Linked DNA regions of Homo sapiens: region 1 is linked to region 2. Evidence: fine-mapped expression QTL. A gene starts in region 2. The other region holds a variant in brackets. All regions are shown on one strand. Distances are from middle to middle.

Region 1 (2,906 bases), 82 kb after region 2:
CTTCTAAAAACCTGCATGCTTTCATACCTCTCCTGCAGTTCTTTTTTTTTTTTTTTTTTTTTTTTTTGAGACGGAGTCTCTCTGTCACCCAGGCTGGAATGCAGTGGCGCGATCTCGGCTCACTGCCAGCTCCGCCTTCCTGGTTCACACCATTCTCCTGCCTCAGCCTCCCTAGTAGCTGGGACTACAGGCACCCACCACCAAGCCCGGCTAATTTTTTGTATTTTTAGTAGAGACAGGGTTTCACCGTGTTAGCCAGGATGGTCTCGATCTCCTGACCTCATGATCCGCCCGCCTCTGCCTCCCAAAGTGCTGGGATTACAGGCGTGAGCCACGGCTCTCCTTCAGTTCTTTTTGGAATGTTACATCTGTACTTGGGGTAGGGGTAGGGGTAGGGGTCAGACTGCTCATGAGGAAAAAAGTGGGACAGGCAGAGGGCGATGTAGCCTTTACTTAGGAGAAGTATAGAAATTAAGGAAGCTTATAAAATTATGATTTATTATTGCAGTCGAGCTGTCTTCTGGGCTTTATCAGACATTTCGTATAAATACTCATTTAATCCTCAACAACATTAGGAGGTATGAGGTCCACTTCCTGTTTTGTTTGTTGTTGTTCATAAACCTGAGACTTAGAAATCAAAGTTAACTTGTTCAGGGTCACAGAGGCTAGTTAAGGGGCAAGCCAGCATTTGAACCTGGCTTGCCACTGCAAACACCCTGCCTGCTATACTGGTTAAAAACATTGTTTCTTCCAGGTGTGGTGGCTCATGCCTGTAATACCAACACTTTGGGAGGCCGAGGTGACCAGCCTGCCCAACATGGTGAAACCCCATCTCTACTAAAAACACAAAAAAAATTGTCTAGGTATGGTGGCTCTCACCTGTAATTACAGCACTTTGGGAGGCCAATGCGGGCGGATCACTTGAGGTCAGGAGTTCAAGACCAGACTGGCCAACATGGTGAAACCGTCTCTACTAAAACTACAAAAATTAGCCAGGAGTGGTGGTGGGCGCCTGTAATCCCAGCTACCTGGGAGGCTGAGGCAGGAGAATCATTTGAACCCAGGAGGTAGAGGTTGCAGTGAGCTGAGATCACGCCACTGCACTTCAGCCTGGGTGACAAGACCGAAACTCCACCTCAAAAAAAAGAAAACAAAAATTATCCAGGCTTGGTGGCGGGTGCCTGTAATCCCAGCTACTCAGGAGGTTGAGGCAGGAGAATTGCTTGAACCTGGGAGGCGGAGGTTGCAGTGAGCCGAGATCGCATCATTGCATTCCAACCTGGGCAACAAGAGTGAGACTCTGTCTCAAAAAAAAAAAAAA[A/C]AACAACATTGTTTGAAGGGCTGTTGGGGTGGCTCATGCCTGTTCTCCCAGCACTTTGGGAGGCTGAGGTGAAGGATCGCTTGTGGCTAGGAGTTACAGATTAGCCTGGGCAACATAGTGAGGCCTGCCTGTCACTATAAAATAATAATGAAAAGTTGAACTTAGTTAACCAAGAACTGTAAGTTGTTTTCTTTTTCTGTCCTTTTGTGTATTTGGCTTTGTTGCCTTGTTACCTCTGCTTTCCCCACTGAAAGACCTTTTGTTGATAGAACAGGTACTGTATTGATGATCTGAAATTTTTGCCTCAAGTTGTAGATATGAATTGACTTCTTTGAAGATGAGAAACTGGAAGGCAGGAAACACTAAGGCCCATAGTGGCTGATTAGTGGTGGGAGGTTGAGGGTCTGAGGTGCTGTGGCAATGATGGGTACTTGCAAAACCTAAAGCGAGAAACTCAGGATGAGAGGATCTTACAGTTCATGTAGTCCAACTCCCTCACTTGAAAAGTGTGACGACAACAGTCTAGGGAGGTTTAGGTTACTCACCTAAGGTCACGCAGGTGGTTACTGACAGTGGAGATAGCAAAGAAATGGGAGTTTGGGGTGCCATCATGGGATGGGGGCAAAAAAGAGCTCTGGGAATGTGTGAGGAGTCTGGCCCCGCCTGTGCTGTAGGAGGGCCTAAAGGTTTGCCTACAAACTTTTTCTTGGTACGTAAGGACATGAGTGCAAATAAAGCAGGAAGGAAAACAGAAATACGCTGGTCGCGGTGGCTCACGCCTGTAATCCCAGCACTTTGGGAGGCCGAGGCGGGCGGATCACAAGGTCAGGAGTTGGAGACCAGGCTGGCCAACATAGTGAAACCCCATCTCTACTAAAAATACAAAAAATTAGCTGGGCGTGGTGGCAGGCGTCTGTAATCCCAGCTACTCGGGAGGCTGAGGCAGGAGAATTGCTTGAACCCGGGAGGCGGAGGTTGCAGTGAGCCGAGATCACGCCATTGCACTCCAACCCTGGGTGACAGTGCGAGACTCCATCTCAAAAAAGAAAAAAAGAAAAGGGGGAAAATGACAAGTAAATATTCTTCTCTCTTTTTGAGTCTGTGTCATATTCAGCACTGTGAACCCTTACCAGCAAGTGACTATTTTTGAGTTACAGGAAGGAAAGGTGAGCAGCCATGTGGCTAAAGAAAGCTCCTTAACTAGGACATATGGGAAGCAAAAGATGGTTAACATTTTTCTGCTGAATGAATTCTACATTCTTTCACATTCTTTGTGTTGAAATAAACTTCTAGCTTATCTTTCAAATGGCTCCTAATTTTATTTATGCAAGTACGTTACTGCTTTAATTCCTTGATGAAACAAGGCAAGATATAAATAAATACAATAAAAGCTATTCTAGCTGGGTAGAACACCTTTTCAAAAGTCTTCCCTAGAGTAAATATCAAATCAAAATGCCTTTATGAATCAGTTGCCCTTAAAAGGGTGGATTTTACGGTCTGAATATCTCAATTTCAACAGAAACACAAAACAGAAAAAAAAAAACCTGGTTGTCTCAGAACATCAGTTCTTAAAATCAAGGCATAA
Region 2 (2,906 bases):
CCCCTGACTACTTTTCTTTTTTTTTTTTTTTTTTTTTTTTTTTAAACTTCTTTTTGTGGAGATGGGGTCTCCTTATGTTGCCCAGTCTGGTCGCTAAGTCCTGGGCTCAAGCAATCCTCCTGCCTTGGTCTCCCAAAGTGCTGAGATTACAGGTGGGAGCCACCGTGCCCGGCCCCCCTGACTCCTAAGCTTTCTTCCCACTCACCAGGATGAGCCCCAAGAGCCTCAAGAACCCAACAAGGTGCCCCTAGAAGACACAGAGACAGATGAACTTTGGGCATCCTTGGAGGCAGCTGCCAAGCGGAAGCTCTCGGGTTTGGAGCAGCCCCAAGGAGCTCTCCAAACGAGACGGAGAAAGAAGAAGCGGCCTGGGTCCACCAGCCCCTGACGCCCCTGTGCCCACTTTGTAAATAAACTGCTGAACACCCACCATGACCCTGAGCCTTTTGTGATGGGAGAAAGGAATGAGGGGTAGCTTGGGGTGGGGGCTGCCTGAGCTGGGGCGACGGGATATCTGATGTCACAAAAGCCGGGCCTGGAGGCAGGCAGGCTGGCGTGGGTGGCACGGAGTCCAGGGCCACGCGGGGCCATGGGCTGCTGCCAAGACAAGGACTTTGAGATGTCTGATGAGCAGTCCAAGGAGGAAGAGTCTGAGGACGGCAGGGAAGATGAGACCACAGACACACAAAGAGGGCCCAGGGAGTGTGAGAGGGGGCTTCCCGAGGGTAGGGGTGAGCTCAGAGGCCTCGTCGTCCCCTCAGGCGCCGAAGATATCGACTTGAACTCCCCGGACCATCCGAATCACAAGTCGAACGAAAGCCTTCTGATTACCGTGCTGTGGCGGCGACTATCCACGTTCGGTCGTCGGGGCTCCTCGCGGCCAAGCAAGAGGCAACCAGACCAGATTCGGAAGCAGGAGAGTCCGATCCGAGAAGGCAACCAGGAGGAGCCGGAGAAGGGATGACCCCAGACCTGCTCTCAGTCCGCCCCAACCTCCAGAGAATAAAATTTCTAACGTATACCTGCACGACCACTCTGGGGGACTGGGCGCGGACACCACCGGGCAGCTGGTTCTTTAAGGCTCCTTCCCGGAGGCGGGCCCAGCCCCCTGAGCGCCTGCTGTAGTACTCTGGGGCGGGGTCACGGTGGCGCCTTAGCCAATGGGAGGGCGGGATCGCTCTTGCGTTTGGGTGTGGGGCGTGTCTTTCGGGTCGCTGGGCTTGAAACGCGTGGGACCGCCCCCTCGTCACTGGGGGTGGGGTTACGTGTAGGTGACGTGGCCGCTTCCAGTCTTTGGTCGGGTTTCGGCGGCTTCAGTGCTCGGGGAGGAGGCAGTGACGGCCGGTGAGATTGGAAGTGGCGGCGGCGGCAGGCGGCAGAGGGGAGGTAAGATTCGCTTTAAGAGGGGATCTGGCCGCCGTGTCAGCTCTGGGGCAGTGGTTTTACGGGGGCGACGACTGGCGGGGGGAAGGGAATCAGGGGCGAGCGGGCAAGTCCTGCCGGCCCGGCTCCGGGTGAGCGAATTCCTTGCCGTCCAATCAGGAAAGCCTCTGTTGAGAGAGACGTCGGCCTTAGCTAATGAGTGGTTGAAGTCTTCCAGAAGGCGGACCTTGGGCGGGGGGTGGGACTTCCTGTTTCAAATAAACACCCAGAGGTTTTCCCCCTCCGCCCACCGAAGTGTGTCAGTCTTTGGAGGTCCGTCACTGGCCCTCCCGGAGGGGCCGAAGGAAACCGCGGAAACGAAAGGGCTGGGTTAGGGCCCGGGGCAGTTACACGGGCCGGGCCGGAGTCTCAGGACCACGGGGTTGGCTCTGGCCCTGTCTCTGCTTCAGGGTCCCCGGCCCGCGCTCTGGCCGCCAGAGCCAAGTTGGAAGAAGAGTCTGAAGCGGGTTCGACTTGGGACAGGGGAAAAGCGGGGCCCTTTCCGCTGCTGGTCCGCCCCAGGATTTGCGAGCGTCCTGGGCGCGAAAGTCCACGAGAAGTGCAGAAGGGGCTCGGGGATTTGTTGATTGGGGTGGGGCGGGGGAGTTTGGGTAAAGAAGTTGCCTGGGGAATGACACTCTCCCCTCCACAACAGTCCGAGGTTATGCGTCTCAATGATCCCGCGGAAACGCTACGGGTCTAAGAACACGGATCAGGGTGTCTACCTGGGTCTCTCAAAGACACAGGTCCTGTCCCCTGCAACTGCTGGCAGTAGCAGCAGCGACATCGCCCCTCTGCCCCCCCCAGTGACCCTCGTCCCTCCCCCTCCCGACACCATGTCCTGCCGGGATCGGACCCAGGAGTTTCTGTCTGCCTGCAAGTCGCTGCAGACCCGTCAGGTAAGGACCTGGAGTGGAAAAGGCGAGGAGTGAGCCTTACTCAAATCTAGGAAGGACTGTGCTCCACCACTGTTAACCGAAGTAATTTTGGGGGGTACCTGATGGAACTGATAGGCTTGGATGGGGCCTGTAGGGTCTGCTATAAGCAACAGAGAAGAGGTCGGCTGGCTAACTAGGGGCAAGGACTTAGACTTTTTTTTGTGAGGAATCCTTTGGAGGGCAGGATTGCTATTCTGGAGGGAGTACTTCAGAGAGTACTTGGCTGCAATATAATTGGTGTGAATAAGGAACAAGTTCTAGGAAGAGCCTTTAGCTGAGAAACATGCACCTTGAATTTTCCAATATACTTCTACCATAAGTTTGCTCTGTAACCATGAGAAAATTAGTTAATCTAGTTACATATTAGTTTTTATCTCTGTAAGATTAAGGACATTTTCTAGATAAGTAATTTGTTGTTTTTGTTTTGTTTTGAGATCTGTTTTTCAACTCTGTCAACAGGCTGGAGTGTAGTGGTGTGATGATAGCTCACTTGCAGTCTTGAACTCCTAGACTCAAGGGATCCTCTTTCCTCAGCCTCCTGAGCAG

Evidence for each region. PIP is the estimated chance that this variant, and not a neighbour inherited with it, causes the effect.
Region 1: its variant is fine-mapped to the expression of STX5 in whole blood (TOPMed, PIP 0.99).

The regions. Positions count from the first base shown.
Region 1 is chr11:62,748,040-62,750,945 of GRCh38, reverse strand. No RefSeq gene overlaps it. Among named protein-coding and RNA genes, the nearest start is that of ZBTB3, 4.7 kb to the left of the region's middle. The variant A/C (reference allele first, on the strand shown) is at 1,322.
Region 2 is chr11:62,830,434-62,833,339 of GRCh38, reverse strand. It overlaps STX5 (syntaxin 5), which reads left to right and starts at 1,289. Exons shown (of 11, transcript NM_003164.5): 1 at 1,289-1,386; 2 at 2,078-2,321. The coding sequence starts at 2,097. TEX54 (testis expressed 54) reads left to right here and starts at 499. Exons shown (of 1, transcript NM_001395459.1): 1 at 499-1,019. The coding sequence starts at 590. The coding sequence ends at 964. WDR74 (WD repeat domain 74) reads left to right here. Exons shown (of 11, transcript NM_001369450.1): 11 at 209-429. The coding sequence ends at 388. STX5-DT (STX5 divergent transcript) reads right to left here and starts at 1,106. Exons shown (of 2, transcript NR_135084.1): 1 at 1,023-1,106. RefSeq lists enhancers at 779-828, 849-918, 1,289-1,378.